Linked DNA regions of Homo sapiens. The protein of the gene in region 6 purifies or fractionates together with the protein of the main gene of each other region. This does not show direct contact. Each region holds a gene or a part of one and is shown on either strand. Other genes may lie near its edges. The genes, in order: GSPT1, STK26, SUPT6H, TTC33, SGF29, VBP1 and MALT1.

Region 1 (4,122 bases), on a different chromosome or scaffold from region 6:
TGGATTGCATGTTCCAGACTATTAAGTCCATAAAAAGCCAGCATCGGAGAACAATCAGTGCTTATAAAAAGCAGGGGGATAAATAGGAAATAACACCTGGATTGGAACTTACAAAGGGGGAACCAAAAAGTTTGCAAGGTTTTTTTGATAGCGAGGAAGTGGACAATAGGGCTAGCATGTTCTGTTCTTTAGTTAAGCCATAGCCGAAATTTGTGCTGGGTGTGTTTTTAAACTGCATGCCGGGAAAGCTGTTGAAGGAGCCTGGAGAGTCAGACCTTGGGATTCAGTATTGACCTTGGATCTCTTTGAAAACTAAAGAATATAGGTTCCTTAAGAAATAATTAAGTGGAACCCATTTAAGTGTAATTAAGTGTAATTCATTTAAGCACAGTTCTCTAGAGCCAAGTAAATTGGCCAAGAGATTCTCCTTAAAAAGTGAGGTCCCCAAGTGAATAAAAATATAGAAGACAAGGCTTAATGTATATTAGAACAAGCATTTTATCTGATAGGATGTATTTAAGTTGCAATTTGCACCTAGTTTTTTTTATTGTTAGATAAGAAACTGGTTTAGTAATTTTAGGGTTACTTGAACTTTTTAGAACAGCCAGAGCTTCTAAAGTAATGATGTGGTGTTCTTTGCATCATCCCACCTTTAATGCTTCTCAGAACTCACTGCCATTAAGAAACAAGCATGGAATAAAACCAGCAGCCCTCAGTACTTACTTGGAGGAGGCACTGTCTCCAAAACTTAGCAGATTGTATTGTGGAACTTGAATTTTAAAGAGAAACATTCTGTTTTGTAGTGTTCCGTATTTGCTGAATGCCTTATTTATTGGAAGAGGAGGTTTTTTTTTTGTTTTTTTTTTTTTTTGAGACGGAGTCTTGCTCTGTTGCCCAGGCTGGAGTGCAATGGCACGATCTCGGCTGACTACAACCTCCTCCTCCCAGGTTCAAGCAATTCTCCTGCCTCAGCCTCCCGAGTAGCTGGGATTACAGGCACCTGCCATCATGCCCAGCTATTTTGTGTGTGTGTGTTTTTGCAGGGATGGGGTTTCACCATGTTGGCTAGGCTGGTCTTGAACTCTTGACCTCAGGTGATCTGCCCGCCTTGGCCTCCCAAAGTGCCGGGATTACAGGTGTGACCGCGCCTGGCCTTTTTTTTTTTTTTTTTTAAATGATTGACATTTAACTTACACACTGTAAAATTCACCCTTTTCAACTGTACAAGCTGGGCGCATTGGCTCACACTTATAAACCCAACACTCTGGGAGGCTGAGGTGAGAGGATTGCCTGAGGCCTCCATAAAACATAGTGAGACTGAGACCCTGTCTCCACAAAAAAAAAAAAAAAAAAAAAAAAAAAAATACAGCTGGGTGCAGTGGCTCATGCCTGTAATCCCAGCACTTTGGGAGGCCGAGGTGGACGGATCACCTGAGGTCAGGAGTTCGAGACCAGCCTGGCCAACGTGGCGAAACCTGTCTCTATTAAAAATATAAAAATTAGCCAGGCATGGTGGTGCGCGCCCGTAGTCCCAGCTACTGGGGAGGCTGAGGCAGGAGAATCACTTGAATCTGGGAGGCGGAGGTTGCAGTGAGCCGAGATCACACCACTGCACTCTAGCCTGGGCGACATTGACACTCTGTCTCAAAAAAAAAAAAAAAAAAAAATAGCTGGGTGTGGTGGCACAAACCTGTAGTCCCAGCTACTTGGGAGGTTGAGGTGGGAGGATCTCTTGAGCCCAGGAGCTGGAGGCTGCAGTGAGCTATGATGGCACCATTGCACTCAGCCTGGGTGACCAAATGAGACACTGTCCAAAAAGAAAAGTAAAGTGTACATACAGTTCAGTGGCTTTTAATATATTTGTAAGGTTATGCAACCATCACCACTTGGCAGATGCTTTTTAGAATATTCTCAGTTTTAAGCTGGAACATCTCAGAAGTGACCTCTTCAGGGCCACCAGAGTAGAGAGGATTCCAAATCAAAGTAATGGTTGTTTAATCCAGAAAGGCCCTTACACTTTATTAATATGTTAAATTCTATCTGTTGAGGTAGATAATAGGTAAGATTCTGTATTTGAGAATGTGTTTTTGAGACTGAAGTGCCTGCAAGAACAGTGCTCATATAAAGGTGTTTTTAGGCTTCAGTGGGACAGCAGATGGGGTAGAGGAGAGGCCCCACAGTATCCCTGGAGTATCACAGTAGTAAACACTGCCTTTCGTTACTTCTCCTGCCATGGCTGACCTTTTTGTCTCTTGTTTCATGGTTTTACACGTATGAATGGCTTGAGACTGAGGATTTAGGGAAGAAGCGAAGGCATCATCTAGGGCTGTGCTGTGCCAAGTTGAGCAGTTGTTTAAACTGTTAGAATTTTTGACTGGTGTAAAAACCCTCTTTGGAGCAGGTATTACGTAGTGCTGTCAGTACATATCTTATTGCATTCTTCTGTTCTTTATTTTTTACCTTTTCTGAAGTTGCACAGCGTGAAAAGACAGCAATTTCAGTTTGAACAAGTTAAGGAAGTAATGTAGACGACAAAGTTTAAGCCTTGATTTGCTTGCTTTGGTTTGCTGGGGAAGAAATGTCTGAAAGTGTTCAGATAGTATTTTCTTTCTGGTTGAAGAGAAAGGAATGAAAAAGAGATTTGATAACCTTCTGGGTTGAGTTAGCAGTATTGGAATGGAATTTTTTTCCAGAAATGCGAATTTCTGGTTTTGCTCAGATATATGTACTAGCGACTCATTAACAAACATTTACCAGTCCACTGAATGAAAGATGCTATGCTAGGCACTTGAAATAACACCAAGATGAATAAATTGTGGTCCTGAAGGAATCTAGAAAGGGATCAGATGCCCAGTGTACTCTAGTGGAAGTCACAGTGTGGTAAGTGAGCCCTGCAGAGAGTGTAGAGAAGGCTTTCAAAGCCGAGAACAGCAATCCCTTACGTAAAACCTCTCAGTCTTGTCACTCTCATAAAACTAAAGATTTATCTATTATCTGCTCACTGTTCTTTGCGAATGCCTTGTGTGTATTTTTTTTTCTGGCCTCCTGGGCCAGAGTTGCAGCCAAAGCCTGATCACCAAGGTTGTGTGTATTTTAAAAAACTTTTTACTTATTATTTTTTAGAGACGGGATCTTACTTTGTCACCCAAGCTGGAGTATAATTGTGTGATTATAGCTCATCGTAACTTCAAATCCCTGGGCTCAAGTGATCTTTCACCTCAGCTTCCTGAGTAGCTAGGACTATAGGCACCCACCATGACGCCTGGCTAAGTTTTTTTGTTTGTTTTTGTTTTTTGAGATGGAGTTTCGCTCTGTCACAGGCTGGAGTGCAGTGGCCCTAACTCGGCTCACCGTAACCTCTGCCTCCCCAGGTTCAAGCGATTGTTCTGCCTCAGCTTCCCAAGTAGCTGAGATTACAGGTGCCCGCCACCACGCCCAGCTAATTTTTGTATTTTTAGTAGAGATGAGGTTTCACCATGTTGCCCAGGCTGGTCTCGAACTCTTGACCTCAAGTGATCCACCCGTCTCGGCCTCCCAAAATGCTGGGATTACAGGCGAGAGCCACTGTGCCTGGCCAAGTTTTGTATTTTTAAGTTTGTCGAGAGTGCTGAAGGTAGAGCACTGGTTATCTTTTTACAGTACTTGTCTATTTCGTATTAAACAGCAGTGAGTTCAGTTACTATGAGTCTGGCTAGTGTGTCTATTGGGGCATGTTTAGAATTTCATCATTCTACCCTTGGTTTTAAAATATCTTCGGGAGACAAGAATTTGGCTACTAGTTGAAGGATCTGAGGTCCTCAGAACAATCAAGAAAACTGACAGTTTTTAGCTGTTGATTGTTGATTCATTTCAAGGCTTAGAAGTTTCTGCCTTGTTTTCAGTAGAGTTTAACAAAGTGAGCCGAGACTGTAGATTTATATGGCTCCTTCGTAAATGGCTTTGTTCTAAGGAAACCTAGTTGTTACAGTACTCTAAGTTGAACCAGTTTCCCATCATAATTCTACTTTCAAAGAGAGAAGAACACTTAATAAGGCTTTCCCGAGCACCTGACCTAACAGTGGTGACACTCACTTCCAAACCACATTCCCACTAGGTAATTGTATGTCGCTTCACTTGAAAAAA
Region 2 (4,122 bases), about 23 Mb from region 6:
GCAAAATCCCTCTAAAGAACTGACCTCCAGGCTTTTCCCACCTCTTGGCCATGTACCAAACCAAGATCAGACTGATACATTTAAATATTCATTTATGCATGATTTTTATTTCTTGAAAAAGTTGTAGGGTTTTATAACAGCAGCGTTTACATTAAAAATTCAGCCTCTAAGTCTGTCAATTAATTTAGACTAGGAAAGTCTGTATGCTATGCCAGAATTTAGTCCTCCACCAGCTGAACTGGCACAAAGGCAACACCAAATTTCTTTAGATACTACTCTGAGATTCTTCCATTTATGAGAAATTGTCCAATGTTGGAAAGGGATAAAAAATATCAGAATAATTTGTGCCCTATTCTAATGGGTGTTAGCCTTAGCTTCCCATAAGAGTCACTCATGGAACCTTAAAGCAATCACAAGCCACACCACTGGAGATCCTGATTCAATAGGTGGGGAGTAGTGAGGGACAGGTATTTATCTATGGTAGGAGGTCTCAATGAAGCACACACAGAGTTGAGAACCACTCCACTACTACTCTGTAGTAAAATGTAGTATTCGCCTGAAGCTGAGATCAGATGCTTTTTTGCATCATGAGTTTTTAAACATTGGGACAATTATCCCTTTAGATTCTACCTGCATTGATTTGGTATTTTTGCCAAGCTGAATCATTTGGGCACTTATAGAGGTATCTTTGGCAATCTCTTTAGGGAATCTACCAGCAGGGAAAACAATACTCATCCTGAATGGAGCTTTACCACCGTACGAAAGAAGCCTGATCCAAAGAAAGTACAGAATGGGGCAGTATGTATATGGAGACAATTACTTACTCTTCATACAGTTTTTCAAACCATGTAGTGAGATGATAATGGCCTAAAATTGTTAGGATTGAATACCCCTAAATGCCTGTCTGCCTCACTGTGTTTGTAGTATGCTTCATTTGTCATTAGTTTTGAGCTAATTAAGAAAAGTTAATAGAAGTTATTTAAGTGGCCATATTGGTATTTTTTAAGTGCATTTCACCTGGAGATACATAAGCCCAGGGAATCATAGGTATCTATTGTAATCCCAGAAGTTAGAGGACTTCTGGATGATGAATGAGAATGAATGATAGGAAGAAAGCTTAGAGACTTGCCTTGCATACAATCTTTTGTTTTCAGTAGGGGATTCAAATTAGTTCGTATTTGTTAAAGAATAAGAAAATCATGACACTTATTTTAATTTCATGTGTATAATCTATATTATTTGTTCAAAGGAGCAAGATCTTGTGCAAACCCTGAGTTGTTTGTCTATGATAATCACACCTGCATTTGCTGAAGTAAGTACAGATTAATTAGCCTTGGATATCTGTGTTAAGTAGTATAATATTTTAAATGTTTTAACTATTATTCTTTCTCAGCTTAAACAGCAGGACGAGAATAACGCTAGCAGGAATCAGGCGATTGAAGAACTCGAGAAAAGTATTGCTGTGGCTGAAGCCGCCTGTCCCGGCATCACAGATAAAATGGTGAAGAAACTAATTGAAAAATTTCAAAAGTAAGTTGGAAATGTCATTTTAAAAATTATTTTGCATTTTCTGTTGTATGTTAATTTATGATGCAATGTAATTCCTTTGATTCAACCATTCCAATTATTCCTAACAAAGTCACCTTTCAATACATAGTTGTATACTTAAAAATAGTTTTTGTCTGTTGTCTATCTTAAACATTAGCTTTTAGAATGATTATCTTTAGGCATGACAAGGTAGTTTTCCACTGCATGAAATGACCTGTTTTTCTTTCTCCACTAGTAGGATTATAGACAAAAGGTCACTGAGCATATTCTCATTTGAGCTCTTATTAATATAATTGTGGAATGCTTTCTTTCTTGCCACTACCCTCAGAATTTAACAAAACACCACTAGTTGCATAGTTTCCAGTGCTAAAGTTCCTACGTTTGATCTCCATATGAAAAGTTAAGGAAAAGGTAGAGGGACTCAATCCAGACCAAAAAAGGGCTCTTATGTTCAACTTCAGTTTCTATGTTGTCTCTTGAAATATTCATTTGATTTTGTTCGCATTCAAAAAAGTTCTTACATTTAATTTTTTAAAAAATTTTCAACAAGACTTTTGTATGCATGCACACATATACACTCCTTAGCTCAAGCAAGCTATAAGGTGATACTGATTTTAGCCTTGACCCTGCTATATCTCTTCTCAGTGCATCTTTATATTTCTTTGTGTTTGTGATGCCACTGGGATCGAGATGGAACAAACTCTGTGACCTGTGAAATCACACACTCTCAAAGATCTTTCTATCTGATAAGGCTCACTTGTACTCGCAAACCTAACCCCCTCTTAAAATCCCTTATATTTTAATGAAAACCCCCCATTTGAAAACAAATCAATCGGAAGTTGTGAAATCAGATGCAGAAGGGATTTTTTAACTTGTTTATATTTTAACATCTACATGATAAGATTCAATAGAAACAATGTATCCCTTTTGTGGAATCAGTTTCTTCATTGCAGAGTTCATACAAAGGAGAAATATAAACATGCATAGTTGTACATTGGTTTAAATTTTTTAAAAATTTTATAGGTGTTCAGCAGACGAATCCCCCTAAGAAACTTATTATTGGCTTCTGTTTCATATGGACCCAGAGAGCCCCACCAAACCTACGTCAAGATTAACAATGCTTAACCCATGAGCTCCATGTGCCTTTTGGATCTTTGCAACACTGAAGATTTGGAAGAAGCTATTAAACTATTTTGTGATGGCGTTTATCATTTTATATTTTGAAAGGATTATTTTGTAAGGAATAACTTTTAATACTATAGTTTCACCTGTATTCTAGTAAATGTTGAGACACCGTTTTGCTTTTAAGTATCCCTATTTCTTAAGTTACGAGGATGAATACCTTTCACATTTTGATCTTTAGTTGACTCTACAGTCATGAAACATACAGGTCTTTCAAAGTCATTCTCAATATTCAGCTTTTGTAAATTATCAAGCTTCAAAAAGCTTTTTTTTTTAAAAAAAAACATGCATATTCTAAAAATGACTATTGGTGGGGAGGTGTAAATAAGTCATACCTTCTTAAAACAGAAAATTTAAGTAAAGTCTTTTAAATGAAACCTGTAAAAGTATTGACTCTTCTACCAAGTTGGTATGATATTCCAGGCAGCTCAATGATTATCACATTTGAGACCCTGTGTTTGAAGCATTTACAGGCAATGTACAGCAACAGAGGTACCTCTTGGTGTATAGTATTTACATTCTCTTTTAGGTAGAAGAGGCAATTTTACCCTTATTTCACATGGTTAGAAATTTAAAGCAAGATCATTTACCCAAGGATAGGTGTTTGGTAATGTTGAAGGAGTTAGTCTGGCTTCATGTTTTACATCTTCAACTAAAATCCCATACTATCTGCTTGGATTTGGAGAGCCAAAAAATAAAGCTGATTGTCATGTGATTAAATATCTGATCAACAGGTATGAATATAACTTAAATCAGCATATTTTTGCCATGGTAATAAATTGTCCTATAAACTATTTATATATTTTTGTTCTTCATAATTATCACTAATAAGCATCAGTTTGTTGTTTTTAAAAGGATATTTAAGTGAGCATTTTCTAGTTCATATGAAAATAACCATAGTACAGGATGATTTCTGTCCACACAAAGGTTAAATTAGATTGCACAGTTAATTTTCACTTATATTTATGGTACTATTATGTGGGTGATGCCTTTTTCTTTTAAGCCCAGTACATATATTATGCCTGCCTAAGTTCTGAACTGGGGCTGTATTTCAGTAGTTGTAGAATTATTGATATTTAGTTTTGATAGCTAATGTTTAATTGTTTGGATCTGCACAGTTTGGTTTTTGCACAAAAGTCATTTAAAAAAATCTGAGTAATTGTCAAATATTAAAAGAAAGATATTCTTCCTGTAAGGAATACAGTTTTTAGTCAAAGTGGCCATTACATCCTCTTTTTAATTTACATAATACAGATACTTGAGAAAGTTGTTGTGGTGTTGTATGCCAAGAAAATTCTTTTTATTGGTGCCTATATTGTAACAATTATTTTTAATGCATTGTATTTTGAAGTAACGGTTCAGTTAAATTTTTCACCTGCTGTGTAACTGAAA
Region 3 (4,122 bases), on a different chromosome or scaffold from region 6:
CCCATGACCCCAAGATCTCTATCCTTAAGGTCATTTAGCTTGAGCACTGCCAAAAGTGAAAGTCTTAAACTTCTGCCAATTAAATCTAGAGCTCTAATTTTAATTTTGACATTGCTCCCCCTCAGCCCTGAACTGAGCCATTAAAAACAGATTTGAGTACGGCAGCCCCCACACATAGCTTGTTCTAATTAGGCTATCAGACCCACAAGTTCAATCTTTTAAGGCCTCAACATCTTCAAATTAAATGCCAGCTCCTGCAGACCAGATGCCCCTCAGCCTACTTAACAGAGAAACACACAGCCTACCTGATGAAAACAACAGCTTTCTTCTGTCTCAAGGGCAGCTGGTGCTCCATGCTGCACACAGCTTGGAAAGATAGCTGTGTTCTCTTTCTTCCCATCGCCTAGGTTAGCAATAAAGCACACACTATGCTATAGCTGGGGAATGCCTCCAATCTAGCTCAATACCAAGACTTCCAGTTATAAGAGGTGTGCCAGAAGCAATTCTGACTTGCTGCAACTTGCAGGAGCTAGATGTGCAGACTGCAGTAGCACTGCAGTCTGAGACTGACAAGCGGGAACTACTCTAGAATAAAGACACTAATGTATTTATTTGTGTATGATTATTATTAATACATGGTATCTATGATGAGCCTGATGTAGTTTGGATGTTGTATTTAGCACTTATGCTCTTAAAATTTTCCCCATACTCACACTGTAAGTTAAATTTGCAACTGGAATAGGTCTAGAAGGGCAGTGGGGAGATGGAGGGAGAGGTTTCTCTAGTCAGAAGCACAGCTGCAGAACAAGATGTGGCTCAATGGGAGAGGCTGGTGGTTACCATGACATTCGCTGGAAGAGGAATGGAACTGGGATCAGATTGCCACAAGGGAGGCCCTCTGCAGTCCCTCCCTTTGAACAAGAAGTTGTAGTAGGCAATTAAGAGGAGACCAGAGTGAAAAGAGATCTAGTCTGTTAATTCCTTCCACTTTGCAGCTTCAATTAACATTTGCTGGGTTTTTTTTTTTTAGAGTCAAGCTCTGTGCTGGGACTTGTGTATATAAAAATGAGTAAAATATGCTTCCTACCCCGGTGGAGTTCACAGTCTTGGTGGAGTTCACAATCTATCTCAAAAAACTTGTTAATAACGTTATGACAAAGCACAATAGGGTTATGTTAAGTTATATAACTGGACTATGAGAGCAATGGGAAGGTTGGGGAATATCTGAGAAAAGGTGATGCCTGAATAAAAGAGGATTTAAGAAAACAGTCTGGAAAAAGGCAACATGAGCAAACATTTAGGCGTGGTGCTCTGGAGAACAGCCCCAGAAGTCTAGGGTGGAGTTTAAGCTACAAGACATTCCATGTTGTCTTGTATCATATATACATATATATATATAAAACACACACACACACACGTATTTATATATATATACACATATACATATATACACACACATATATACACATATACATACATATGTATACACACACACATACATATATATATATATATATATATATATATATACACACACACACTTTTTTTTTTTTTTTTTTTTTTTTGAGACGGAGTCTTGCTCAGTTACCCAGGCTGGAGTGCAGTGGCATGATCTGGGCTCACTGCAAGCTCCGCCTCCTGGGGTCACGCCATTCTCCTGCCTCAACCTCCCAAGCAGCTGGGACTACAGGTGCCCACCACCACGCCCAGCTATTTTTTTTTTTTTGTATTTTTAGTAGAGACGGGGTTTCACCGTGTTAGCCAGGATAGTCTCAATCTCCTGACCTTGTGATCCGCCCGTCTCAGCCTCTCATAGTGCTGGGATTACACTTGTATCCTATATTTTATGGGCAAGGGACTAGGACTATTCCAAAGGTATCCATAAGTGAATATCCAATTTGGAATTTCAAAACCTAAAAGTTTAATAGATAAAAGTATTTAGAGTCTACTTAAGTCCTTTTAAATCTGGAATTCAGAAGGCTTTGTAATTAAAAAAACCCTGAAAACCTAATTACATGAAGTCAAGATGTTAAAATACAGAAAAAGTTAATTTTGTTCATTTAAAAATATTATTTATTCGGCTGGGCGCGGTGGCTCACGCCTATAATGCCAGCACTTTGGGAGGCTGAGGCAGGCTGATCACTTCAGGTCAGGTCAGACGCTCGAGACCAGCCTGGCCAGCATGATGAAACCCTGTCTCCACTAAAAATACAAAAATTAGCCGGGTGTGGTGGTGCACGCCTGTAATCCCAGCTACTCAGGAGGCTGAGGCAGGAGAATCGCTTGAACGTGGGAGTCAGAGCTTGCAGTGAGTCGAGATCATGCCATTGCACTCCAGCCAAGGTGACAGAGCGAGACTCCGTCTCAAAAAAAAAAAAAAAAAAAGTATTCCTTTTCTTTCCACATTTCTTTAGAGAAACAGGGTAAGGGCTAAAGAAGAGTACAACTGAAATATGTAACCAGATTCAGAACCCCTGCAACACAAAGAGAGATTAACAGTTACTGAACCTTGTGGTACACACATTGAGGAGCGCATAGTTCCTGCTCTAGCACAGGGGTTGGCAAACCTTTCCTTTTCTCTATAGGGCCAAATCTGCCACTGTAGCACAGCATACATAACATGTAAATGAATGGGGGTGACCTTATTTGGCTCACAGGCCTTAGTTTGTGACCCCTGATTTAGAGAATTGATGATAAGAATAGCATGGGATCCTGTAATAAGACAACCTAACCTGGTTTTGAGGAAGTGACTTTAAACAAAGACCTTAAGAGTAAGGAGGAATTAGTTCAGCAGAGGAGCTGGCTTCTTTGGAGATGGTTTGGGGAGTGATGTCAGAGACGTGTGCTTCTAGCACAACACGTGTACTGTGGCAGGTACAGAGAAGGCCCAGGAGAGGAAGAATGGTTCATAAGGGTTGGAGAAGTCATAAGGATCTAGGCACTGGGAAGCCATTGCAGGGTTTTAAATGTAGAACTGAACTTAATCTACTTGCTAATCCAACAAAAACTTATTATTTTCTGAGATGGGGTCCTGCTCTGTCACCCAGACTGGAGTGCAGTGGTGTGATTACATCTCACTGCAGCCTCCACCTCCTGGGCTCAAGCCATAATCTCACCTCAGCCTCCCAGGTAGCTAGGACAAATACATATACATATACATATACGTTTTTTTGAGACAGAGTCTCGCTCCATTGCCCAGGCTTGGAGTGTAGTGGCACGATCTCAGCTCACTGCAACCTCCGCCTCCCAGGTTCAAGCAATTCTCCTGCCTCAGCCTCCCAAGTAGCTGGGATTACAGGCACCCACCACCACGTCCAGCTAATTTTTTCTTTGTATCTTTAACAGAGACGGGGTTTCACCATGTTGGCCAGCCTGGGCTCGAGCTCCTGACCTCAGGTGATCCGCCTGCCTCAGCCTCCCAAAGTGTTGGGATTATAGGCGTGAACCACCATGCCTGGCATAAATATGTATTTAATGAGTGCCTACCACATGCCAGGCACGTACAAGACTAGGTCCATGCCCCTAGGATGCCCGTATTCTGGTGCAGGAGACATATTGGCAACAAATAAAATAAACCTTGCTCTAAAAGCGAAGAAGGAAATGCATATTCTCATCTCATCTAAAGTGAGTTTACTTAGGCTGAGATGTCAATAGGTAGGATATGACCTGTAGAAGTAGGAGGAGAGGTTCCAGTAGAGAAAGTGGGCAAGAACATGGTATATAATAGGTGATGTCCTGAGGCTGATGGCACTAGAGCATGGTGAAGGCAGCAGCCTATGAGGGAGAGGTATGCTCAAGCAGGGCGTAAAGGCCATGGAAAGTCACTGGAGAGTTTTAAGTAGGGAAATGACATGATCTGCCCTGATCCAATTCTGTTACATGGAAAATGAACTGGAGGAAGATCTGAGTGGAAACCAGGGAAAACTGAAGATACTGTTGTGGTAGCCCAGGCAAAAGATGGTGGTGGCTTGGAATAAGGTGGTAAAAGTGAAGATGGAGAATAGAAGACAGATTACAAAAACATTCTGCAAGTGGAAGTGACAAGACTTACTGAAAGACTGGGGAAGAGGAGTAGTAAAGGAGAAGAACAAAGATGATTCTCAGAGGTCTATCTTTGGTAAC
Region 4 (4,122 bases), on a different chromosome or scaffold from region 6:
GGCTGGTTGAACAAATTAATTCACCTAGTTTAATGGCAATACCTGGGGTTCCCTGAAAACCACATTGTAAATAGAATAAATGGAAGTGGAATTGGGAGTTCAAAATACCTCTGAGCCACCATAGTTAGGATATGACCACTTGGTTTTGACCAGATGGACATAAGATTCAATAACTGGAAAGGGAATCGTTTACATTTTCATAGTTATATAAGGGGTGAAAAGAGAACTATAATTTCTTACCCTGAATGGCAGAGTAAGGGGTAAAAATCACCGAAATGCTATTTTTACTGGACTAAAAATATATCTTAAAAAATGAAAAGGGTTTTTTATGTAGTTGCTAGTTTATGAATATTACTGACAGATTTTTTGGTCTTTTTTTGCCTATAGGTGCTAATGTCTCTTCATGAAATGTTCCCAGCAGTACATGCAGCAGAAATGGCCGTCCAGCAAAATCCACATTCATGGGAGTCTTGGCAGACTTTGGGACGTGCTCAACTTGGTTTAGGAGAGATAATCCTGGTGAGGAAGTCAGATTATTATAATGCAGAAATTTTAAGTATATTTTGACTTTTTTTTTTTTTTGAGATGGAGTCTTGATGTCACCCAGGGTACAGTGCAGTGGTGCAATCTCAGCTCACGGCAACCTCCGCCTCCTGGGTTCAAGCGATTCTCCTGTCTCAGCCTCCTGTGTAGCTGGGACTATAGGCATGCGCCACCATGCCTGGCTAATGTTTTTGTATTTTTAGTAGAGACGGGGTGTCACCATGTTAGTCAGGCTGGTCTTTAACTTTTGACCTCAAATGATTCTCCAGCCTCGGCCTCCCAAAGTGCTGGGATTACAGGCGTGAGCCAACATGCCCAGTCTATTTTGACATATTTTTGATTAACTGAACCCAAAAGTGAATAGCCGTTTATCAAGTCTATACAAAAAACAATTAGCAAATTACTTCTTAAAGGTATTAATCCATAAACACAGTTCACAGGTATTACTGAACATCTTTTTTATTATAGACACTAATTATATCATGATCAGAATATTTTTCAGTTACTTGACATCATGGATATTAAAAAAAATTTAACATAAAACATTGGCATTTGGTAAACCTTATTTAAATAGACAATAGGCAACTTTTTGGCTTAGTTCTTTGGATCATTACATTTACCACATTATAAAGTGGTATTAGTATCACTGTGGAGACAAAACCGCTGATAGATTATACAGGGGAAGGAAGACAGTAGAATATGGGAGGGTAATGGTGATGAACATTTAGACTGAAAAGTTGTTAGGCTTATTGAGGGGATAAAGAGGAAGAGTAGAAATGTGTGCAAATGAAATACTCATTGTGTAATGTTTACCGTAAACTGGTACCTAATGCATCTCTCAATTTGTCTGGACTATACCTTGTTAGTAGCAGAGGCTATCTAGGTAAGAATTAGCTGTGACAGCTGTCCTGTTGTTTTTCTTTTGGCAGGGCTATATACACCTGATAGCTAACGAAATTTAACTTCCTAACAAGTGTTTGCAAATCTAATATACAGTGCCAAATTTCCTCCTTGTTATTAAGTAAATTAAGATTTTAAAAATGGTTTTATTTTTTACAGTTCAAAATAAAACATTTTAAAAGTTTCTTGCAAGACTAAAATTACTGATAAATTCAAAATATAAACTTACTAACAGTGGTTTTAGTAAATTGTGGATGACTGAGCTTTTTTTCTGGCATTCTTATAAATGTATCATTATTTCTACTTACCAAAAAAGGTGTTTGTCAAATTCTCAGAAATAGTAAGGAATTTGTATGAGAAAATAATTGATTTGATTAAAGTAAGTTAATGATAATCTAAATGAGATTCACAGTGATAGAAACCATTTTAACCAAGTACTGTTTTTTTCTTGCCATTTAGCACTGTCAACTTCTCTCTTTTTACATGAAGACTTAAATCATACCAGAGTTGGAAAAAAGAGTTCAAAGAATTTAGTTTTCTAACATTAACAGGGGAAGAAAACCCTATCATATAATACTTTTTCCTTGCCTCCCTTATTAAAAATTTATACATCACTATCTCTTTTGCCAATAGTGTCTATGGTAATGGAACAAATCTCTAGGACATAATATTTAGTAAAGATTGTCCTTTATAAAGAAAGAAAATACACTGCAGGTGAGACGGAGATACTTTGAATCATCCAATAAAAATAATTTAATATTTAAATTTTTTTGAATAAGAGTACCAGTTCGACTTTTTTTTTTTCTGTTGATATGGCTCTATTCATTAATACTGTGAAATTCTTAGAAGAATTGAAAGTATTTTTTTTTTGCCATTTAAATGTAATTTTTAGGAATCTTCTCTGTTTTTATGTAGATTTAAGCTGTTCTCTTAAAAGACTAGAATGGTAAAAAAAAAAGATGACTCAAAATGTCATAACGAAGGGACACTATGTAAAATATATTGAAAGCAAGCTAGAATTTCTAATATCTAACAATTCTTACTATATATACATATGGACTAAAACCATAGGAAATTATGTATGTAAATAGCACAGGCAGTAAATTAAAAGTCAGTAGTTGGGTATATCTCCATGAATAATTATTTAAACTTTGTAAGAGTTGGATGTGAACATTGGAAAATGTTTATAGGAGATATATATATATAAAATATGTATGTATATGGTATACATTTTATATATATATACGTGTGTGTGTGTGTATATATATATATATATAAAAGACTTTATGAGAATGAGATTTTAAGAAGTGGAAGGATGAGAGAATAAGAAAGCTGAAGCCAGGCGCGGTGGCTCAAGTCTGTAATCCCAGCACTTTGGGAGGCCGAGGCGGGCGGATCACAAGGTCAGGAGATTGAGACCATCCTGGCTAACACGGTGAAACCCCGTCTCTACTAAAAATACAAAAAATTAGCTGGACGTGGTGGCGGGCGCCTGTAGTCCCAGCTGCTCGGGAGGCTGAGGCAGGAGAATGGCGTGAACCTGGGAGGCGGAGCTTGCAGTGAGCTGAGATCGCGCCACTGCACTCCAGCCTGGGTGACAGAGCAAGACCTGTCTCAAAAAAAAAAAAAAAAAAAAGCTGAAGAGAATGGTTCTGGGAGTTAAAAATTCTGTATGAGGGAATGGGGATGGTGAGAAAGGAATACATAAGGGATTTATCCTGAAGAAGAAGGTAGAGAGGGAAGGAGACTGGGAAAGGTAATGAATACCAGGAGGTAACAGTATCAGGAAGGATTCTTCTGTTGGCTTTCCAGGGTTCTCAGCCTTCAGTGCTGGAACTAGCTTTGTGGCTTCCCTTCTTCGGGCTCTGTGTAATTCATTGCCAGCTTTTGCTTTTCTTCATGCCAATGTGCAATAAATACTAATTTTGTTTACTAATGTTTTCTCTGTTTTCCAAGTCTCATTTTAGCCATTGGTTTTAATATTTTGCATGAGCAAATCTTTAATTAGAAATTTCAGTTGCATCATTTGATTCTTTTTATTGTTTCGCTTTTGTAATGGTAGTAATGGGATGGACAAGTGATAATTTCCAGACAAAAGGAAGATGATTGAGAGTTTTTAAAATTTCACTTGAGGGGCTGGGCATCCTGGCTCACGCGTATAATCTCAGCACTTTGGGAGGCTGAGGCAGAAGGATTGCTTGAGGCCAGGAGTTTGGACCAACCTGGGTAGCATGGCAAGATCCTATATTTACAAAAAAAAAAAAAAAAAATTTGGCTGGGCATGGTGGCTCATGCCTGTAATCCCAGCATGTTGGGAGGCTGAGGTGGGTTGATCACCTGAGGTCAGGAGTTTTGAGACCAGCCTGGCCAACATGGTGAAACGTCGTCTCTACTAAAAATACAAAAATTAGCCAGGCATGGTGGTGTGTGCCTGTAGTTCCAGCTACTCAGGAGGCAGGAGAATATCTTGAACCTGGCAGGTGGAGGTTGCAGTGAGCTGAGATCGCACCACTGCACTCCAGCATGAGTGACAGAGTGAGACTCCATCTCAAAAAAAAAAAAAAAAATCCACTTGTAAATTTTTAGTTTAGTTAATTACTGTAGACATTGTTTGAGTCAAGCTGCATTATCTTTTTTATAATTGAATAGTACAAATTCTTGAATTATAGTCTTTATAAA
Region 5 (4,122 bases), on a different chromosome or scaffold from region 6:
CCTGACCTCAAGTGATCCTCCTGCCTCAGCCTCCTAAAGTGCTGAGATTACAGGCGTGAGCCACCACACCCATCCCTGCTGTGGAAATACTCTTTGGGAAGATTCCCTGAGCTTTAGGATGAAGGAGCCTCACTCCAGCCAAGTTCTGTGTTTGCTTCTGCTGGGTTCTTTGGGTTCCTGCCACCCTGGAATCCCCATAAACTAACTTCACAGAGGCTTCCTGGGGCTTCAAGGCCATGCAGGGGTCTGTCTTTGGGTTCAGCCTTTCAGAAAGGATGAGGTCCTTCCACCCAGTTCTGCTCTGGGCCAGCACCTCTCCCCAGAGTCTCCCCTCCTTTTGTGTGACCCTCGGGCAGACCTGAGGCCCCCTCTCCTCATTTCAGGAGGTTCCTGCAGCCTTTCTGCAGGGTTTGCCGAAGGCAGTTTGCCTGTGTCCTTTCCTCTCTGGGATCCTGTGTTCTCTTAGTTTTTGGCATGCTGCTTTCTACCACCTTGTTTTTTATGTTCTTAAGACTAAAAGACACATACTGAAGATTTCCAGTTTTCTTTTTTTTTTTGAAATGGAGTTTCGTTCTTTTTGCCCAGGTTGGAGTGCAATGACGCGATCTCGGTTCACTGCAACCTCTGCCTCCCAGGTTCAAGCGATTCTCTTGCCTCAGCCTCCCAAGTAGGTGGGATTACAGTTAAAGACGCTCGCCACCACACCTGGCTAAGTTTTGTATTTTTAATACAGACGGGGTTTCACCATATTGGTCAGGCTGGTCTTGAACTCCTGACCTCAGGTGATCCACACTCCTCGGCCTCCCAAAGTGCTGGGATTACAGGCGTGAACCACCACACCCGGGCAGATTTCTAGTTTCACCATGAGGTTGGTCTGAATAACCCAGCCCACCTTGACCAGAACAGGAACCTGCACACACCTGTCATTCCACCTGCGCAGGAGGCTACTGTGAGAACCTCTGGAGTCCGGGACCAGCCTGGGCAATGTAGCTTGACCCAAAACAGAAAAAATGGAAGAGAAGTCTATGCTATGTACGTTAACCAAACCCTCTTTCTCCCTTCTCCCCGCCCTCAGCATCCTTCGGAAAGCTCTGGACAAGATCGCGGAAATCAAGTCTCTGTTGGAAGAGAGGCGGATTGGTGAGTGGGAGAGAACATGCTGGGAGGTCCTTTGCTAGGACAAGAGGAGAGGCCCTGCGGGCAGCAGTCACCCTCCTGTGGGGGCCTGTGGCCACCACCTGCTGGCATCCTCCCATGGAGGCTCTGGCAGACTGGCTCTACCACTGAGAAGGGACAGGAGGTCATTCCCAGTGCCCAGAGGCAGGGGTTTCCCAGTTCTCCCTCAGCAGCCAGAGATCATCCCGCCCTGGCCCCTCATCTCCTGCCCCTTCTGGGGCCTGGGCCAGTCGCCCCCTCCTCTGCCATGGCCCATGCCCATCTGTTGCCCTGGCTGGTTTCTGCAGAGCCACACGCTGTGTGTCGTAAAGCCAGCCTTCCAGACCCCCTCAGCCTGCATTAGGCTCTCCTACCTGTCTGCCCTCCCAACAATCCCATGGTGGGCAGAATCTTGGCATGTCAGTGTCCCCACACAGCCATGCTGGTTCTGTGTGAAGTCAAGTGGGGTGTCCAGCTGTGCCTGAGGAGGTTGAAGGTGCACATTTAATTTTTTTTTTGGTTTTTTTAACTTTCTGTTGAATTACAATGTATATTAATAGAAGAAAAGTACACATAAGTGCAGAGTTCAATGAAATAGTCACTAACTGAACACACTTCTGTAACCAGCATTCAGATCAGCAAACACAGCCTGAACAGCACCTTGGAACCCGCTTTCTTTCTTCTGGTTCCTCCCCCTGGATCCCCGCTGTGCTGCCATCTCACCCAACTGTAGTTAAACCCAGCAGCCCCTATAGGTGCTGACACATGGCCGATGGGGTCACAGTCCTGCTGGGCCCTCGGGCTCACTCGGGAACTGGGGGCTCCCAGGTGCTCCTTCAACAGCTCAGTGCAGCATGCTCGGGGGTCAAGGCCGGCACCTATCCCTGGGGCCTCAGGCCTCCCTTCCTTCCCACAGCGGCCAAGATTGCCGGTCTCTACAATGACTCGGAGCCACCCCGGAAGACCATGCGCAGAGGGGTGCTGATGACCCTGCTGCAGCAGTCGGCCATGACCCTGCCCCTGTGGATCGGGAAGCCTGGTGACAAGTGAGGGCAGCAGCTGCGAGGGAGGGGCTGGTGCCCAGGGGCTGGGACTGACCCTTTGTTCCACTCACAGGCCCCCACCCCTCTGTGGGGCCATCCCTGCCTCAGGAGACTACGTGGCCAGACCTGGAGACAAGGTGGCTGCCCGGGTGAAGGCCGTGGATGGGGACGAGCAGTGGATCCTGGCCGAGGTGGTCAGTTACAGCCATGCCACCAACAAGTGAGTGACACCAACCCTGGGGCTGCTCTCTGGTCACCGAACTTGCCTGGGCTACGGGAGAAAAGCTCTGCAGAGGGTGCTCCCCAGAGGCTGGTTGTGCAGGGAGCACCAGGTCCTCCCCCATCCTCACTCCCCAACAGGTACTGCGCCCCTGGCTGCATCCAGCCTTTTCCTCCTTTTGTCTGCAGGTATGAGGTAGATGACATCGATGAAGAAGGCAAAGAGTGAGTGTCCAGGCCAGGGCAGGGCATGGAGCCTGGGGGCAGCCTAACAGCTGAGAAGGAGCATCCCCACCCGGCCACAGGTTGATATAAGCCCCTCTTCCCCCAGGAGACACACCCTGAGCCGGCGCCGTGTCATCCCGCTGCCCCAGTGGAAGGCCAACCCGGAGACGGACCCTGAGGCCTTGTTCCAGAAGGAGCAGCTCGTGCTGGCCCTGTATCCCCAGACTACCTGCTTCTACCGCGCCCTGATCCATGCGCCCCCACAGCGGGTAAAGCAGCCTCCAGGGGAGAGGCCATGGGTGATGTCAGGAACAGGCTGATCAGACAGACGAGGGGTCCTCTCCCCACTCCTTCCCTTTGTCCTCATCTCACAGGCTCCAAGCTGACAGGACCCACCAGCTGCCCTCCCTCTTCCACTCCAGCCCCAAAGGCCACCATCCCTTTGCCAGCCCTGGCAGCCTTGGCAAGCCCCGAGTCAGTGGCTTCCAGCCCCAGGAGAACCAGCTCCGAGATGGGAAGCTCCTGCCCTGAGCCCTGGGCTCCTACCGCCTTGTGCTCTTGGTGACATGGGACACAAGCCACCTGAGGCCAGGATCCCTGCCTGCCACCCTCTGGGTTGCCCTCAGTCCTCTCAACAAAGAGTCCTTGAAAGGCAGCAGACCCTCCAGCTATGACCCCACTAGGAAGGGAGTCAGCACCCCTACTCCTCCCTGCCTATTCCCTGCCTTGGGTCTCCAGCCACTGAGAAAAGAGCTCTGTAGCAGCAGGGACTGGGCCAAGACTTCTTGACCCCAGAGTGAAGGATGTTAGGAGTGGCTGAGAGTCCACGGCCCAGAGCCTCCTGTGGTCTAGGCTGGGGGAAGGGGGTGCCTGTCCTGGCCTGGGGGTCTCTGAGCAGCCCCTCCTGTCTGCCTGCCCCACAGCCCCAGGATGACTACTCGGTCCTGTTTGAAGACACCTCCTATGCAGATGGCTATTCCCCTCCCCTCAATGTGGCTCAGAGATACGTGGTGGCTTGTAAGGAACCCAAGAAAAAGTGATGCCGCCTGGCAGACTCGCCATCCCCCAACGACACAGGGCAGGACAGCAGAGGACGTGCTGGGATTAAACACATTCCCCCTCTACTCGTCTCCTGGGTTTTACTTCTCCAGACCCTCTCCCCTCTCCAAACAGGGCAAGTTGAGGAGCTGGAGCGGGGAGGTGGCCGTATTTGGCCCCAGTGGGCGATCACTCTTTCAGCTCAGGGTTTCTCTTGGCTTGGAATAGAGACTCTGCATTGAACACAAATCATACTTTATTCTGGAGCCTCTTGGTCAGGCTTGATTCGCACACTCCCTCTGCAGTGACTCCAGGAACCCCTCTCACAGCTCAGAGCGGAAGCTGAGGCTGCAGCCTGCCATCTTCTTCGCATAGTCCGCATCGAAGCGCTCATTCTGCGCCACGGTGAAGGTGGTCTTCCAGTCCCCAGCCATGCCTGGGG
Region 6 (4,122 bases):
AAAGGAAAAGAAAATGGGCCTTGGGACCAAGTCCTGGGAGAGGGGGAAATTTGCGTATCAAACTTAAATTGCTCTTCTAACTAGTAAATTAATGATAGACAAAAACAAAAAAAAGAAAAAAGTTATATTGCTAACTCTACAACTGTGGTATGTAGCAGGATACTCACTCTAGCTTAACATATGGTCTAGGCCTAAATGTGGGGAGAAGGGGTAAAAATTCAAAGCACTTAGGAAACATCAGTGAACGTTGGTGTTCTGGATGAGAACAGTGTTTGTCTAGTGTTTTAAAAGAGAATGGTAGAGTTGGAGATAGTGAGTTAGGAAAATTTTCTTGAGTTTTACCTATTTTAATAGTGGGTTGGTCATTTTTTTGAGACAGGCTTTCTCTCTGTTGCCCAGGCCAGAGTGCGGTGGTGTGATCACAGCTCACTGCAGCCTTGACCTCCTGGGTTCAAGCAATTCTTCCATCTCAGCCTCCCAAGTAGTTGGAGGGCTACTTTTCTCTTTTTATTTTTCTGGAATTTCTCTCACTCCTATGATGTCAGCTATGCAACAAAACTATTTTTGTGTCATGATCTAGTTGTTTTGCAGCAGATGGCTCTATGTAGTTTACATGCTAGCCTTTTTGTTTTTTTTTTTTTTCAATTTGCTATTATTTTATTTAGGATTTTTGAATTTCTGTTCATAAGTGAGTTCAGCCTATTTCTTTCTTTTTTTAATTTTTTTAGTATTGATCATTCTTGGGTGTTTCTCGGAGAGGGGGATTTGGCAGGGTCATAGGACAATAGTGGAGGGAAGGTCAGCAGGTAAACATGTGAACAAAGGTCTCTGGTTTTCCTAGGCAGAGGGCCCTGCCGCCTTCCGCAGTGTTTGTGTCCCTGGGTACTTGAGATTAGGGAGTGGTGATGACTCTTAACGAGCATGCTGCCTTCAAGCATGTGTTTAACAAAGCACATCTTGCACCGCCCTTAATCCATTTAACCCTGAGTGGACACAGCACATGTTTCAGAGAGCACGGGGTTGGGGGTAAGGTTATAGATTAACAGCATCCCAAGGCAGAAGAATTTTTCCTAGTACAGAACAAAATGGAGTCTCCCATGTCCACCTCTTTCCACACAGACACAGCAACAATCTGATCTCTCCTTCCTTTCCCCACATTTCCCCCTTCTCTATTCGACAAAACCTCCATCGTCATCATGGCCCGTTCTCAACGAGCTGTTGGGTACACCTCCCAGACGGGGTGGCGGCCGGGCAGAGGGGCTCCTCACTTCCCAGACGGGGCGGCCGGGCAGAGGCACCCCCCCACCTCCCGGACGGGGCGGCTGGCCGGGCGGGGGCTGCCCCCCACCTGCCGGACGGGGCGGCTGCCAGGCGGAGGGGCTCCTCACTTCTCAGATGGGGCGGCTGCCGGGCGGAGGGGCTCCTCACCTCTCAGACGGGGTGGCTGGTCAGAGACGCTCCTCACCTCCCAGACGGGGTGGCGGCGGGGCAGAGGTGCTCTTCACATCTCAGACGGGGTGGCTGGGCAGAGGCGCTCCCCACATCTCAGAGGATGGGCGGCCGGGCAGAGACGCTCCTCACTTCCTAGACGGGATGACGGCCTGGAAGAGGCGCTCCTCACTTCCCAGAGTGGGCGGCCGGGCAGAGGGGCTCCTCACATCCCAGACGATGGGCGGCCAGGCAGAGACGCTCCTCACTTCCCAGATGGGGTGGCGGCCGGGCAGAGGCTGCAATCTCGGCACTTTGGGAGGCCAAGGCAGGCGGCTGGGAGGTGGAGGTTGTAGCGAGCCGAGATCACGCCACTGCACTCCAGCCTGGGCACCATTGAGCACTGAGTGAGCGAGACTCCGTCTGCAATCCCGGCACCTCGGGAGGCCGAGGCTGGCAGATCACTCGCGGTCAGGAGCTGGAGACCAGCCCGGCCAACACAGCGAAACCCTGTCTCCACCAAAAAAATACGAAAACCAGTCAGGCGTGGTGGCGCGTGCCTGCAATCCCAGGCACTCGGCAGGCTGAGGCAGGAGAATCAGTCAGGGAGGTTGCAGTGAGTCGAGATGGCGGCAGTACAGTCCAGCCTCGGCTCGGCATCAGAGGGAGACCATGCAAAGAGGGCGAGGGCGAGGGTGAGGGTGAGGCTAGCCTTTTTCTTTGTATGTGTTGTAAATCTTGCAGCCTGTCATTTAACTTTACCCTTCAAGCTGTGTAAAAGTTCCTTAGTATTTCATGTGTTAATCTCTTTTTCGACACTTGAATCTGAGATCTTTTATCTTTCTTTAATTGGAAATTTTGTGATTATCACTTTTTCTATCGTCTGTTAATTTTTTTTCCTCTTTCTTTCTGGGATTCCTGTTTACAGATGTTGACACTTCTAATTCTGCCTTCCATTTATTTATATTATTTCCCTTTTTTCTGTCTTTGTCATTTATCTTTTGGCAATTAGATGGATAGCCATGAGTTCTTTGTTTCAGCTGTTAAGATTTTTATAGCTGGTAGTTCTGGTTGGTTCCTCTTCATATTACCAATATCCTTTCTTTTCTCTTTGTGGTATCTTTAAGTATTTAATGTATAGTTTTATCTTTTGGTATTTGTTAATTTTGTTTCATATGGTAGAGGTTGTTGAATTTATTGTCTTTATTTATTATAATGATCAAATTATAATGTCTTTTCCCTGTCAGCTTAGATTCCCTCAGGGATATCAGCTACTTTGGCCAGTAATGTACGTGGAGGTGGGGGTAATTTAAGTCACTCCTGGTGGGTAGCAGTGGCGCTACCTCGGCTCACTGCAACCTCCACCTCCTGGATTCAAGGGATCCTCCCGCCTCAACTTCCCAAGTAGCTGGGATTACAAGCATGCACCACCACGCCCAGCTAATTTTTTTGTATTTTTTTTTAGTAGAGACTGAGTTTCACCATGCTGGCCAGGCCGGTCTCGAACTCCTGGCCTCAGGTGATCCACCCGCTTCGGCCTCCCAAAGTGCTGGGATTACAGGCGTGAATCACTGTGCCCAGCCAAGCTACTTTCTCTTCAGGTGAAGCAGGGTAGGGAGGAGTGTATTGCTTGGGCATGTGCTGTGTCATTGGTGGTCTGGTTCCTAAGTTAGCTAGGGCTGCATCTGATTGATTCATTAATATGCTTTATAGCATATTACATATAATATTTATATATACAGAATGCATCTTAAAAGTCATTTACATGACAAAAAATCTTGATCTGAACATACTCCTTATGTTGTGTGTGTATCACATATTTTACAAATGTATAACATCTTTCTGTTTACCTATATGAACATATCATGCAAAAATAAGCAAACTTGAGCAATCTATGGCATCCAGATTGAATTGTAGTGAAAAAATGAATGCTAGGTGTTTCTAGATTATTCACTGGACTGTATTATCAAATGATGACACTATGTTTTTTTCTTAAGCAGCAGGCTCATTTAACACATTTCTTGCCAGGTCAGTAGCACAGGGTGTAGTAAATTTGCCCTGCCAACCTGCTGCACACATGGAGTGACTTCTTTTATGTGACGCAATAAGTTCATTTTCATTGTTGTGTTTATATTTTGTTTACATTTTGGTCTCTAATAATATTTAGTAAATTTACCTCGAAAGAACCAGAGCTTCGTTTTTATATCCTTAGTCTGTTTTGCTAGAAATTACATTTGACAGAGACCCTAGAACTGTTTTGCATATATCTCCATGCAAAACACATGCATCTAATTACCATAAAGAGCTAAACCCCAGTGACAAAAACGGTATCATTGTTTTCTCTCTTTAATTGACTGAATGTTTTTAGCATACTGTTTTTCTCTTATGTTCTTGTCAGTGAGGTTGATTGCATTTGGGAGTCACTTACTAGCATTTTGCTAGTAGCTATCATATAACTTATCCATTAAGTCGGATCAGTTGTATCATGTCCATCATTGTTTTTTTAAATTTCTTGTGTTTAAATCAGTGATCCATTTATAATTTTAAGAACGATCGTTACCTCATTTGAAAAGAAGAGCATTTATCAACATAAAAGTTAAGGAAGAAATACCCAAAGCTTAAAAGAATCACTAAATTATACTGTATCATAATGTGGTGTGTTTGGCATTCAGATGATTCTGTACATTTTTCACA
Region 7 (4,122 bases), on a different chromosome or scaffold from region 6:
GCTTGAAATATTAATCCTCATTCATTTTGAGTAGTCTTATGAAGATGCTGTCATAGCATTTATACTGTTACCCAAGATTTAAAATTCAGTGATAATGTTGATTATTTCATATGGAAAAAATGTATACGATCAAATTAATTTCATTAGTAATATTATCTACCTCATAGGGTTGTTAGAATTAAATAGCTAATCCATGTAAGAAGTGCTTAACACAGTGCTTGGCAAGTAACAGACATTCAATAAAGGTTAGCTCTTATTATGCAATAAGAATATGGGGATATTAAAAGAATATTAAAGCTAACTTCTTAACTATGCTTATTTCTGAAACAATTTTAGCTTTTCCTTAAACATTTTTTTGAGTAACTATTATTTTGGTAACCTGAAAATGTCCTCTAAGGCCTCCTGTGATCACTATATTTACTAGGTATTCTTTTCTAAGCATCCTAGTTCAATTTTATTATATTCAATATGCCATTCTTGTTAAATGTGAATCATCATATCACAAGTCAACCAGTCTCAAATTCTGGACTGTAGACCAGTGGCAGCACAATCTGCAGTCCAAGGTAAAATGATAAAAATAAGGACAATAAAGCTGTCTTTTATTCTAAAATTGTCTTTTCCATTTTTAGGTGTTAAAGTGTTCTTTCTTTTAAGAAACAATGGTGACTATGATGACAGAAAACATAAAAAGGTGAAGCTGCCTGTTAGTGCTCTTATTTTGTGAAATTTTATTTTACTAGTTTCTGAAATACCCAAGTGAAAGAACCTGTATTAGAAACAATACAAGGATTACTAATTTTGTAAATAATTAGAATGAGATTTGTAAAAATAGGGATGCTGTATGCTAAATATAATTTTTATGATTCAGAAGTTTACCAGGATCTGATAAATGAAATTAAGAAGCCATCTCATCAAATGCAACCAAGTGATGCTTTAATTAATGTCTATATTGATATAGAGAAAATTAAAAACACTTGGCTTTCCTTCCCCCCCAAAAGAACAAAGATCAAATTGAAGTACAGATGATTTCTCTTCCATTACAAGAGGCACAGGAGAAAAAGAAGACTCTGTATCTCTTTTTGTTTTTACTGATTTTCCGTATGGGCACTGGCTTTCAGCTAAGATGATGCTTATACATACCTAACTTTTCTTTCTTTCCTTTTTAAGTTACATTCCTGTAAGAGTGTGCTTTGAAGTAGTTTCTGAAAGTCCTAATTTAGAATTTTTGATTTAATTTAAAAACTGCTTTATGACTGAAACAAATGTACTTTACTTTTTAAAAATATCTCTATTTTTATCTTTAAAAAAATATATAATCAAATAGAATGTATTATACACCCTTTAGGGGACAAACCATAATGCTGTTTTTAGGTTCTTCTGCTTCTCCTCTTGGTACATTTACTATTTGGAATCTTTATTCATTAATTTGATCTATTTCTCCATCACCTAAAATAGGCCACTGTTTTTTCTAGGTGTTGAGGATACAGCAGCAAACAAAACAAAATTCTGTATCTTCCTGGATCTTTCATTCTAGAGAAGTACAGACATAAATTTAAATAAACACAGAGATATCTTTTTGTGTATGTATCCAACTAACCAATGGTCTTAAGTGTTGTGGAGGTAACGCAAGTAGACAGGTAACACTGAGCAGATGTAGAGGGTAATTTTAAATATTATGATCAGAGAAGAGCTCAGTGAGGTGAACAAGTCATGTGGTTACCTGTGGAGACCATCTCAGCCTGAGTAGGCAGCAAGTACAAAGACTACTGTGTCCAAAGGAAGGCAAGAAAGCACATGTGACCAGAGTAGAGAGGGATGGAGACAAGAAGATATCAGGTTGAAGAGTGAACTGGTAGCTAATGGTGTTTTTACTCTGAGATGGAAAAACAATAGGAGAGTTGGCATTTTTTTTTAATGGGGTCTATCTATGTTGCTCAGGCTGGTTTTGAAGTCCTAGGCATAAGTAATCCTCCCACCCTGGCCTCCCAAAGTGCTGGGATTACAGGTGTGAGGCTACCACGCCTGGCCACAATAGGAGAGTTTTGAGCAGAGGAGGAATAAGACCTGATGTGATGTTTTAAAAGAATAATTCTTACTGCTATATTGGTAACAGACTGGGGTGGGAGCAAAGCAAAACAGGGAGAAGTTAAGTGGCTACTGGAATAATCTAGTTGAGAGACAACGTGGCTTGGCCCAGCGTGCCAGCAGTGGACATTGGATTCTACATATATATAGTGAAGGTACAGCAGGAAGGATGGGCTGACAAAAACGATTTGTGTGTAAAAGTGGAGTCAGGAATGAATTCGAAGTTTTTGGACTGAACAACCAGAGGGTGCAGAAACTGAAAGAAAGAGGTTTATAAGGGAAGACGTGTTAAATTTTGGACATGTTATATTTAAGACGTGTCTTAGTCATTCAAGAGAAGATGGCAAACAAGTGTTTACATACGTGAATCTAGGAGTTCAAAGCAGAGAAATGGGCTGGAAATAGAAATTAGGAGTAATCAACCCAAATAAATGTAAAGTCATGGGACTGAAGGATAAGACCAAGAGGGCGAGAAGGAAACCTTTTTTAGTTTATTTGTTTTAGAGACAAGGTCTTCTCTGTCGACCATGCTGGAGGTTGACAATACCTAAATCAATAAAATTCTGTCTTGTCCATATTAATTATTCATAAATGAATGATTACTGAATGAATTTCAATAATAATTGTTGAGGCTCACTGCAGCCTCGAACTCCTGGGCTCAAGCAATCCCACCTCAGCCTGCAGAGTAGCTGGGACTACAGGCCTGTGCCACTATGCCTGGCTAATTTTTTGTTTTTTTGTAGAAACAGGGTCTCAGTATGTTTCCCAGGCTGGGAGGAAACCTTCTGTTAGAGCCTTTTACACGTTCTCATTCCTATAATAAACTGCATGAAAGCAGGATTTCTGCAGCTAAAAGTGCACCTTCTACTCAGCAGGTATGCAATGACTGTTTTTCCATGGTCCAGGTTCCACAGCCCCATTTCTAAGCTCCCTACTTAACAGAATTTTAGGCAGCATTTAGAACCTCCTGGAAGGTCTGCCATCCTTAGGGCTCAGATGTTCCATGCCACCAAAGAATTTACATAGCTTGGGCAAGACCCTCAGAGTCTGTGTCTATCTACACTAACAGCAAAGGGTGTCCAGGTCAGTCTTGAATGGAATCAGGGCCGGGTCTGACTATAGCACATTCCCAAATGTACATGGTTGTGGGGAACTAAGCTATCAACAAGGATTTACTCTGAGTCATCAGCAATGAAAACATTTACAATTATTTCTAATCTCTTGTAGACAGTTTGAACGGGCTCTTTTCTTGTGGTTTACTTATTTGTATTATTAAATTTTCACCCAGTTTGAGGAAAGATGTAAAGTGTCAGAAAAAAAAGTGAAGAGAAGAAAAAGAAACAGAATGGGCAACATTTCGAGATTCTAGGGCTGCAGATCCAGTGACTGAAGAAAGCACTTCACAGCCTCGTGGGACTTGTCACCCACACGGACTAGACACTCACACTATAATTCCTGTCTTTGGCACCAGAGAAAAAATACCTTTAGGACCTTCTAGTATCACAGATCTTCTCCCAACAGCATGAAATCACTTTACAATAACTTTTTTGTCTTAAATAGAGTAAGCATCCCCAGCTGACCTTGCTTCACTGTCCAGCCCCCAAGCTCCCAGTGCTGTTTTTTGAAAAAAAGTCCGTTTAATTCTTCTGATCTCCATAGGGATGAGCTTAACGTTCCCAAATTCTCCAACCCTTCTCACCCCAGCCAACCTCCTCAAAACTAATCTTTACCATCTTGAAAGACAGGTGAAACTCATCTGCCTCTCATCAGACTTCCCACCCCAAATTCTCAGATTCCACAACTGCATGCCCTTTGTGCTTGCCACCTCTTGTTAGGCAACTGTCCCCTTCTCTCTGTGTGACTCCACAGAAAAGTGGCCTCAAATATTTCCTTTAGTTCCCCCAAACAAAGCTAAGACCATTTTGTAGCCTTTAACAAAAACTGACTGAAGGCAGGCGAGGAAAACACAACACCCAACATCAAGTATCCGCTGCTTTTGGATTCCAGCAGCCACGCTTCTTCCCTGGCAGGGCCTTG

The links.
Region 1: the proteins of VBP1 (region 6) and GSPT1 purify together in Homo sapiens (affinity purification with mass spectrometry; 2 studies listed by BioGRID and IntAct, with this or other methods). This does not show direct contact.
Region 2: the proteins of VBP1 (region 6) and STK26 purify together in Homo sapiens (affinity purification with mass spectrometry; 2 studies listed by BioGRID and IntAct, with this or other methods). This does not show direct contact.
Region 3: the proteins of VBP1 (region 6) and SUPT6H purify together in Homo sapiens (affinity purification with mass spectrometry; 2 studies listed by BioGRID and IntAct, with this or other methods). This does not show direct contact.
Region 4: the proteins of VBP1 (region 6) and TTC33 purify together in Homo sapiens (affinity purification with mass spectrometry, with the first as the bait; one large-scale study listed by BioGRID). This does not show direct contact.
Region 5: the proteins of VBP1 (region 6) and SGF29 purify together in Homo sapiens (affinity purification with mass spectrometry; 2 studies listed by BioGRID and IntAct, with this or other methods). This does not show direct contact.
Region 7: the proteins of VBP1 (region 6) and MALT1 purify together in Homo sapiens (affinity purification with mass spectrometry; one large-scale study listed by BioGRID and IntAct). This does not show direct contact.

Annotation. Positions count from the first base shown.
Region 1 is NC_000016.10:11,909,097-11,913,218, reverse strand, and holds part of GSPT1 (eukaryotic peptide chain release factor GTP-binding subunit ERF3A), read left to right. Parts: intron 1-4,122. UniProt on the Homo sapiens protein: GTPase component of the eRF1-eRF3-GTP ternary complex, a ternary complex that mediates translation termination in response to the termination codons UAA, UAG and UGA.
Region 2 is NC_000023.11:132,071,564-132,075,685, forward strand, and holds part of STK26 (serine/threonine-protein kinase 26), read left to right. Parts: intron 1-704; coding exon 705-798; intron 799-1,249; coding exon 1,250-1,312; intron 1,313-1,393; coding exon 1,394-1,530; intron 1,531-2,571; coding exon 2,572-2,596; 3' UTR 2,597-4,122. UniProt on the Homo sapiens protein: Serine/threonine-protein kinase that acts as a mediator of cell growth. Modulates apoptosis. In association with STK24 negatively regulates Golgi reorientation in polarized cell migration upon RHO activation.
Region 3 is NC_000017.11:28,664,814-28,668,935, reverse strand, and holds part of SUPT6H (transcription elongation factor SPT6), read right to left. Parts: intron 404-4,122; exon of another isoform or gene 306-403; intron 288-305; exon of another isoform or gene 1-287.
Region 4 is NC_000005.10:40,724,742-40,728,863, reverse strand, and holds part of TTC33 (tetratricopeptide repeat protein 33), read left to right. Parts: intron 1-387; coding exon 388-519; intron 520-4,122.
Region 5 is NC_000016.10:28,588,025-28,592,146, forward strand, and holds the end of SGF29 (SAGA-associated factor 29), read left to right. Parts: intron 1-1,075; coding exon 1,076-1,140; intron 1,141-2,071; coding exon 2,072-2,201; intron 2,202-2,271; coding exon 2,272-2,418; intron 2,419-2,606; coding exon 2,607-2,642; exon of another isoform or gene 2,643-2,647; intron 2,648-2,748; coding exon 2,749-2,911; intron 2,912-3,016; coding exon of another isoform or gene 3,017-3,028; exon of another isoform or gene 3,029-3,565; coding exon 3,566-3,682; 3' UTR 3,683-3,766; downstream 3,767-4,122. Other genes in the region: SULT1A2 (sulfotransferase 1A2), read right to left, coding at 4,004-4,116. UniProt on the Homo sapiens protein: Chromatin reader component of some histone acetyltransferase (HAT) SAGA-type complexes like the TFTC-HAT, ATAC or STAGA complexes.
Region 6 is NC_000023.11:155,222,489-155,226,610, forward strand, and holds part of VBP1 (prefoldin subunit 3), read left to right. Parts: intron 1-4,122. UniProt on the Homo sapiens protein: Binds specifically to cytosolic chaperonin (c-CPN) and transfers target proteins to it. Binds to nascent polypeptide chain and promotes folding in an environment in which there are many competing pathways for nonnative proteins.
Region 7 is NC_000018.10:58,674,154-58,678,275, reverse strand, and holds part of MALT1 (mucosa-associated lymphoid tissue lymphoma translocation protein 1), read right to left. Parts: intron 667-4,122; exon of another isoform or gene 630-666; intron 1-629. UniProt on the Homo sapiens protein: Protease that enhances BCL10-induced activation: acts via formation of CBM complexes that channel adaptive and innate immune signaling downstream of CARD domain-containing proteins (CARD9, CARD11 and CARD14) to activate NF-kappa-B and MAP kinase p38 pathways which stimulate expression of genes encoding pro-inflammatory cytokines and chemokines.